2 separate regions of the Homo sapiens genome follow, and region 2 is linked to region 1. The links come from fine-mapping of genetic effects on gene expression. A gene starts in region 1. The other region holds a variant in brackets. All regions are shown on one strand. Distances are between the middles of the regions.

Evidence for each region. PIP is the estimated chance that this variant, and not a neighbour inherited with it, causes the effect.
Region 2: its variant is fine-mapped to the expression of NDUFAF5 in blood mononuclear cells (TOPMed, PIP 0.97). The same link has a PIP of 0.9 or more in whole blood.

Annotation. Positions count from the first base shown.
Region 1 is chr20:13,782,639-13,787,032 of GRCh38, reverse strand. It overlaps NDUFAF5 (NADH:ubiquinone oxidoreductase complex assembly factor 5), which reads right to left and starts at 2,005. Exons shown (of 11, transcript NM_024120.5): 1 at 1,743-2,005. The coding sequence starts at 1,964. It overlaps ESF1 (ESF1 nucleolar pre-rRNA processing protein), which reads left to right and starts at 2,114. Exons shown (of 14, transcript NM_001276380.2): 1 at 2,114-2,153; 2 at 3,850-4,394. The coding sequence starts at 3,893. RefSeq lists enhancers at 1,095-1,784, 1,780-2,069.
Region 2 is chr20:14,027,175-14,031,568 of GRCh38, reverse strand. All of the region lies in intron 2 of MACROD2 (mono-ADP ribosylhydrolase 2), which reads right to left. Among named protein-coding and RNA genes, the nearest start is that of MACROD2, 34 kb to the right of the region's middle. The variant A/G (reference allele first, on the strand shown) is at 2,473.

The sequences.
Region 1 (4,394 bases):
TAAGATCACAAGGATGAAAAGCAAAAGGAACACAACAGGCACATTACTGTCCACGGATATTAGCATGAGGTACACAAAGTGAAAAATTAGTTAGTTGGGGTTTATTGTAGATGAGTATGTAAGTGGTCACTTAAGAAAAACTCTATTATTTGATGACTAACAAATTTTGTGGAACTCATAAATGAACAACTTTTCTGAGTGACATTCGCAAGTTAGAAAAAGCCAAATCTGAGGAAAGTGCACCTCCCCTGCTCCAATCCCATCCCAATTTAAGAGTCATAAGGTAAGCACCACCTTTTGCTGGCCTAGCTTCATCTGGTAGCAATAAAGACGTGGGAGTCTAGTATTCCCCACATTCCACTCATTCCCTCATAAACACCCCAGAGTTGCTCTTAGGACTTAAAAGTTCCAAACACAGATGTACCTGCTTTTTGAGAGAAGGGCAAGGGAGAAGGGAGCGTAGATGTTTTTCCCAGGAGTCCACCTTGTACGTCATTCCTAATATGAACACCCTATGTTTATTATAAAAAGAACTCTCATATACTTTATCTTATTTGTTCTAGTCTCACAAATTGGCGAGGCCTCAATCAAGTTGTAGTCCAGGTGCTTTCTTTGGAGGGAAAGGGCTATGAGCGCACATCTTCTAAGTACACGACATCAGCAGTGTAGTACGTGCACCATGCCTTACAAGTGAGACACAAAAAATTTATTGGTAGTAAACTTCCTATAATAGACATTACCAGCCTAAGACTTCCTGAGAAAGACACCCTGTCAATCATCTGATCAGACCTGTACTTGCACAGAGCTCTGCTCAAGCTATGAGTTCAATAACTGTTTGTTGCATTATACTTGACTCCAACTTTGTTCCACTCCTGAATAAAAATTTACTGAGGCCTGAACTTGAGAATGCGTGTCCTGAAAGTAGAAACCCTCAGTCTCTGGCTCACCTGGGCAGGGAGAAAGGTTTCTCAAACGAGCCAAGACAAATCAGAAATCTTAATTTGATCTTCCTAAAACATAAGTCAGATCACTCCACTGATTAAAACAAGAGCTTCACATTCCCCTAGAGCAGTGCTGACCAAAAATCATGAGAGCCACATATGTAATTTCAAATTTTCTAGTAGCCACATAAGAAAAAAAGTAAAAACGAGAGAAATTTTAATTGAAAAATTTAAATTTATATTTAATATATTTCATGTGACCCAATATATCAAAAATAATCACTGCAACATGTAATCAATATAAAAGCTCTTAATGAGCTATTTTACATCCTTTTTTCATACTAAGTCACTATACTCGTGTGTATTTTACAACACATCTCAATTGGACTAGTCACCTTTCAAGTGTTCAACAGCCACATGTGTGGCCGGCAGTTACCATACTGGCTGGACAGTGCAGATACAGAAGAAAACCCCAAGTCCCTATCCTGCAAGGCCCTGATGATTTGGGTCCTCCTAACCTTCTCTCCCACTCTCTCCCTCTCCGGAGCTTCACTGGAGGCCTCTATAAGGTCCTTTCAGCCTCAAGGACGTTGCCGAAATGAATGCATGAATGAATGAAAGCATGTTACAAATATCCGAGGCCAGGCCTTGCGTGATTACAGTAGAGGCCGAAAGAGGCAGGGCTGCTGGTCAAGGTCAGACGGCTAGGTGGGGTGAGCTCGGGGCCTAGCCGGAACTAGCGGAGAGGAAAACAAGCCTCCGCGTCGCCCGCCCCGCCGCCCCGCCGCCCCGCGGGCTCACCTCCTCCTTCAGGTAGTCAAATTTGGTCGGCTCGGGCTGCCGGGCTGCCCAGTTCTTCTGTTTCCTTTTCAAATCCCGGTCGAAAATATTCAGGGTTCTGGGCGAGGTGCTACCGCGGGGAGAGACACCAGAGGTGACTTCCCTACGGCCAAGATTCTCCGCTGGGACCCTCGCCGCCCAAGGTCGCCGACATAAGCGCCAGAGCCCTGCCGGCCGCAGCATCTCCAGCTGCGACCCCAATTGCCGGCGCTTTTTGTGCGCATGCGCCAGCGCGGCTTTTGTGTCTACTCCAAAGATCTTCTCGAGGGAACGTGCAAGTAGTTTGGCCTAGTTCGCTTGCCATTACGGCGGAGCGTCACGCGGAGGATTGTGGGTGTGAGCCCCACGTGAGGCTTGGTAGGACTGCGGACGGTGAGTGGGGATGGACTGGAGTTGAAGAGCTCGAGATGAAGGGCTTGAGGGCGTGTGTGTGTGTGGCGCGGGGAAAAAACTAGTCTCTAACAGGATCTCTTTCGGATCTGCGAGGGGTTTTGCCCCTTCCTCCTGAGCCTTTTTCGGTCTCATTCTTCAGTCTTCATCGATCCTTTTCAGGGTCGCTTCTCGAATCAGTCTGTTAGCTGCCCCCCTGCGGTACAGGAGGTGGAAAGGAGACCCTAGTTCAGGGGCCAGCCCTGTGTTCTCCGAATTAGAGAGCGGGCAGAAGGGGAGGGTGGGCTACGGGGATGCGGGCGCGTGTCGGGAGTGAGGTCCGGTCGCCTTCCCCTCTCTCGGATTATCTGACATATAATGAGTGCTTTCCTTCTAAACATTTACAATACATGCAGTACTTCTCCTGGTTGAGGTGGTACCTACCTCGTAAGATTGCTCAGAGAGTTAAGTGCTGTAATACATCGAAAAATGTGTAAATGCACCAGCGATAGCTTCCTTTTTTTTCCTAGTTAGTGTAATTAAAAGGACTTGATTTTTAAATAAGAAATATTGCCCTTTTAATCATTTTGGGGGGGGGTTGCTTAATAATCAACGACTTTTGGCTCTTTGCAAAATTCCCATCCAGAGATGCTAAACCATTGGAGACTTTTCACAAGGGAACAATATTAATTTATACACACATATGTATATGTTCTAGTATGTTTTGGGGGAATGAGCTCACTTGGGCCTTCATCACTGGTAGAATCAGATATTATAGAAAGAAGTGATATTTATTAACTGGTGTGAGACTTTACCTGGAGACTCAAATTTACTTTTTATTTTTAAACTTTTTATTACTTTTGAAGGATGATCGAATTTAAAAAGGAAACTTTCTTAGCTAAACCTGAGTTGATTTTGGTCTGTTTAGTTAGAATGCTAGTCTTACAGAACTAAAGGCTGTTTGTTGGCAGTAGCCGGAGATAAGGAGTAAGCAGAATGAGACCAGAATGTGAAGAAACAAATGAGGCCAACGGAGGCTAGGGAATCTTTCTTTCTTACTTTTTTTTGGTAGACAGGGTCTCACTCTGTTGCCCCAGCTGGTGTGCTGTAGTGCCGTTAGGCTCACTCTAGCCAAGACCTCCCGGGTGGAAGTGATCCTCTTGCCTTAGCCTCCAAAGTAGCTGGGACTACAGGCGCGCGCCACCATGCCGGGCTCATTTTTGTATTTCTTGTGGGGATTCACCATGTTACCCAGGCTGGTCCTGAACTCCTGGGCTCAAGTGATCCGCCCGCCTTGGCCTCCGAAAGTGCTGGTGAGCCACCGCACTCGGCCTAGGGAATCTTAACTACATTTGCCTTCAATTAGTAACACATACTGGTATACAAATAGAAATTCTAAGTGAGAGCAATGGATGAATAAACATTTGTTCCCCTCCATAAAGCCCTGGGATTCTGCTTTGTCTACCTTAAGTTTATTTCTCTAAATGATCTGTCATGGAAAGAGGATATTTTGGTATGTTTCTGCTTTTTTGCATGTGACCCAGAATACGTTGGAGAGATGAAATTAGACTTGTTACCTCTATTTTATGTACACTTAACTTAGAATATATTAACTTAGAATATATTGTGAATGTGTTTTAAAACATTTAATTATTGTACTAACCATTATTACCATTAAAACATTTGTTTTATTTTTCAGTATTTGTTTTCTTCAAGCATTTGGTCGAGATTAAGAATTAAAAATGTCATCCAAACAAGAAATAATGAGTGACCAGCGGTTTAGACGGGTTGCAAAGGACCCGAGATTTTGGGAAATGCCAGAAAAGGATCGAAAAGTCAAAATTGACAAGAGATTTCGAGCCATGTTTCATGACAAGAAGTTCAAGTTGAACTATGCCGTGGATAAAAGAGGGCGCCCCATTAGCCATAGCACTACAGAGGATTTGAAGCGTTTTTACGACCTTTCAGATTCTGATTCCAATCTCTCTGGTGAAGATAGCAAAGCATTGAGTCAAAAGAAAATAAAGAAGAAAAAAACCCAGACTAAAAAAGAAATCGATTCAAAAAATCTAGTTGAGAAAAAGAAAGAAACCAAGAAGGCTAATCACAAGGGTTCTGAAAATAAAACTGATTTAGATAATTCTATAGGAATTAAAAAAATGAAAACCTCATGTAAATTTAAGATAGATTCAAACATAAGTCCGAAGAAGGATAGCAAAGAATTTACACAAAAAAATAAGAAAG
Region 2 (4,394 bases), 240 kb before region 1:
TAAATCAATGTCCAGGAAAAAAATTAGATTTATCATTTTAATATATCTTTTTAAAGTATTTGTAATTAATACAACCAACATTTAAGGGAAAGTTACTTTTTACTTGTAACTAATTAGAATCCATTTTAAGAAACAATTACTGAGTCTCAAGTTGCTAACATTAATTTACAGATACAATTCAGATGTCAGCATATTTAAGCAATTTTTCATCGTCAAAGTAAGCATCCAAGCCATATGCACACTGAGATACTACATATTGTACTTACTTTTAAATAAAAAGTACTTCATATAGCATGTCAGAAATAAAACCAGAGAAATCTAGAGAGATCTGTCTCACAGAGAGAGAAAGACATGCATGAAATATTTAAGAGAATGTTACAACCCTATTTAGGAAAAAGACATGTTTTATGAAACATTAAAGAGTCATATTTAGCCAGTCATAGCATTCCATGAACATAGTTAAGCTGTCTTTAAAATCCCAGGCTAGAGCTGTTAGCAAGTTATATATAGCCAAAACTAAATTAGGAGTGTTAACTTCACTATGTCTGGTGAACTAAAAAGCAAATCATGGATAACCTGATATCTAAATTTGAGTATGTGGAAGAAGATAAGAAAACGATATATCTATGCCTATCTCTCATCCTAAAAGTTGGCTGTCTTTCATCTATTTAATTTGCTCCCCAAAAGTATACAAAGAATCCTGGTAATGACCATTTGAACTACTAAACAGAAAGATCAGAAAATTCTTCATTCAGCTGATTAAGTACTGGCAATTCCAAAGAGTCTGACCACAAGTCCTTTGGAGGGAGGGAGGGAGGGAAGGAAGGTGAGCCATTTCCTTAAAACCTTTTTTTGATTAAAAATAAAATTCTGGCTCATACCTGTAATCCCAGCACTTTGGGAGGCCAAGGCAGGCAGATCCTCTGAGGTCAGGAGTTCGAGACCAGCCTGGCCAACACTGGAAAACTCTGTCTCTGCTAAAAATACAAAAATTAGCTGGTCATGGTGGTGTGTGCCTGTAGTCCTAGCTACTCAGTGGGGCTAAGTCAGGAGAATCGCTTGAACCCGGGAGGCAGAGGTTGCAGCTAGCCGAAATCACGCCACTGCACGTCAGCCTGGGCATCACCACAAGACTCCATCTCAAAAAAAAAGAAATTAAATTAAAAAATAAAATTCATAATGGCTCTTTCACCAACTAAACCCTGAAAGAATCAAAAATTAGAAGAGTATAGGCTGGGCACAGTAACTCATGCCTATAACCCCAGCACACTGGGAGGCTGAAGCAGATGGATGGTTTGAGCCTAGGCATTTGAGACCAGCCTGGGCATCATAGCAAGATCCTGTCTCTACAAAAAATAAAAAAATAGCCACAAGTGGTAGCAAGTTTCCGTAGTCCTAGCTACTCCAGAGGCTGAGCTAGGAGTGGAAGGATGGTTTAAGCCCTGGAGTTGGAGGCTGCAGTGAGCTAAGATCGCATCACTGTACTCCAATCTAGGTGACCTGAAGGAAAATCAGGTTACAATACTTTGCAAGTAAAATCTGCAAGGAAAAAAAGTACTATTTCTTAGCTCCCTCCTCCCACTGTGTCAATCAGTGTTTCAAAGAATGACCTGGCTTAGTGTATTTCATCACTTAATTAGAAACAGAACAGTAATTTGCATTTAGTTGCCTGTCTTACATTAAGAAAGAAACTCAATGGTGTTCCAATCAATAACAGAAAGTATCGATAAATTACATTGTTGAGTATCTGAAAAGAGAAGGCCACTTAGTACAAAGGTAAATTATTTTAGAATAGGAATATCAATAGTCAGAAAAACACATTAAACAACATATTCTTCAATTACCACCCAGTGAAGAAATTGCTTTTACTGTGTCTGGGTGATTTGTATCTAGAACCTCTCTGAATACTTTCAATGACAGCAAATTCACTGTCAGAGTCCACTTCATTCAGAAGTAATTAAAATTTTTTAAATTTTTTCTTATATTGTTCTAAAATCAGATTCCCACAACTTTGACACGATGCTCCAAATTGTTGCTTTCAGCCCTTAAAGTCACTGAAGTTACCCATCTTGCCCCCATATCCTTTCTTTTTCTAAACTATGGATCATGATAAACTGTAATTATTTTAATAAATTCAATAAAAAGTATTTTGACTAGGCTAGGCATGATGGGGGAAGGAGGAAAGCCTCAAATATTACAAGACACAAAAACCTGAATTTCAAAACAAATTCAACATACTATATATGTTCAATTCTATGATGCGTTTTTTCCCCTAACATGTTAACTTCTCTGAAATTGGCAGATGGCTTACAATTAAAGACATTTATAGTTGCTACTGAAGAGGTGGTGACAATGACAGTTCTCTCTGCCTGTATAAGAACTTAGTTGTTTTTTCCAGTGATATAACTGGACAATTGCAACCTCTCAACATTCCAGGCAACAATCCATTTAACGAACAGTTGAAGAAAGAAT[A/G]TGAGCTAGCAACTGTCTGAAAACCTTTCATTAACATCATCCGGTAACATGAAGAAAGTGCCAGCATTAACACTTACAGAAACCAGTATCAATGGTTAAGAAGAAAATCCCAGATCAAAGTACAGTGGATGAAGTATGCTATATCATCAACTTTCCTAACTGCACAGAAAAGATACTCTGTGGAAAAACAGACAACTCTGGGTAAGAAAAAAATGATTGAGAAGAATTGGGCTCTGGAGCAAGACAGCCGAATAGGAACAGCTCCGGTCTGCAGCCCCCAGCGAGATCAATGACGGTTGATTTCTGCATTTCCAACTGAGGTACCTGGCTCATCTCACTGGGACTGGTTGACAGAGGGAGGGCGAGCAGAAGCAGGGTGGGGCATCACCTCACCCAGAAAGCACAAGGGGTCGGAGAACTCCCTTCCCTAGCCAAGGGAAGCCATGAGGGACTGTGCCATGAGGAATGGTGCATTCCAGCCTGGATACTACGCTTTTCCCATGGTCTTCGCAACCTGCAGACCAGCAGATTCCCTTGGTTGCCTACACCACCAGGGCCCTGGGTTTCAAGCACAAAACTGGGTGGCTGTTTGGGCAGACACCGAGCTAGCTGCAGGAGTTTTTTTTCATACCCCAGTGGCGCCTGGAACGCCAGCAAGACCGTACTGTTCATTCCCCTGGAAAGGGGGCTGAAGCCAGGGAACCAAGTGGTCTAGCTCAGCAGATCCCACCCCCACGGGGTCCAGCAAGCTAAGATCCACTGGCTTGTAATTCTTGCTGCCAGCACAGCAGTATGAAGTGGACCTGGGATGCTCAAGCTTGGTGGGCGGGTGGGGAGGGAGAGTAGCTGCCATTACTGAGGCTTGAGGAGGCAGCTTTCCCCTTACAGTGTAAACAAAGCGCCAGGAACTTCAAACTAGGCGGAGTCCACTGCAGCTCCGCAGAGCCGCTGTAGCCATACTGCCTCTCTAGATTCCTCCTCTCTGGGCAGGGCATCTCTGAAAGAAAGGCATCAGCCCCAGTCAGGAGCTTACAGGTAAAACTCCCAACTCCCTGGGATAGAGTACCTGGGGGAAGGGGCGGCTGTGAGCGCAGCTTCAGCAGAAGTAAACATTCCTGCCTGCTGGCTCTAAAGAGAGCAGCGGATCTCCCAGCACAGCCCTCACACTCTGCTAAGGGACAGACTGCCTCCTCAAGTGGGTCCCTGACCCTTTTACCTCTTGACTAGGTGACACCTCCCAGCCGGGGTCGACAGACACCTCATACAGGAGAGCTCCGGCTGGCATCTGGCAGGTGCCCTTCTGGGACAAAGCTTCCAGAGGAAGGAACAGGCAGCAATCTTTGCTGTTCTGCAGCCTCTGCTGGTGATACCCAGGCAAACCGGGTGTGCAGTGGACCTCCAAGAAACTCCAGCTGACCTGCAGCAGTGGGGCCTGACTGTTAGAAGGAAAATTAACAAACAGAAAGGAACAGCATCAACATCAACAAAAAGGACGTCCACATCACGAAGATGAGGAAAAACCAATGCAAAAAGGCTGAAAATTCCGAAAACCAGAATGCCTCTTCTCCTCCCAAGGATCACAACTCCTCGTCAGCAAGGGAACAAAATGGGACAGAGAATGAGTTTGACAAATTGACAGAAGTAGGCTTCAGAAGGTGGGTAATAACAAACTCCTCCAAGCTAAAGAAGCATGCTCTAACCCAATGCAAGGAAGCTAAGAAACTTGAAAAAAGGTTAGAGGAATTGCTAACTAGAATAACCAGTTTAGAGAAAAACAGAAATGACCTGATGGAGCTGAAAAACACAGCACGAGAACTTCGTGAAGCATATACAAGTATCAATAGCCGAATCGATCAAGCGGAAGAAAGGATATCAGAGATTGAAGATCAACTTAATGAAATAAAGAGTGATGACAAGATGAG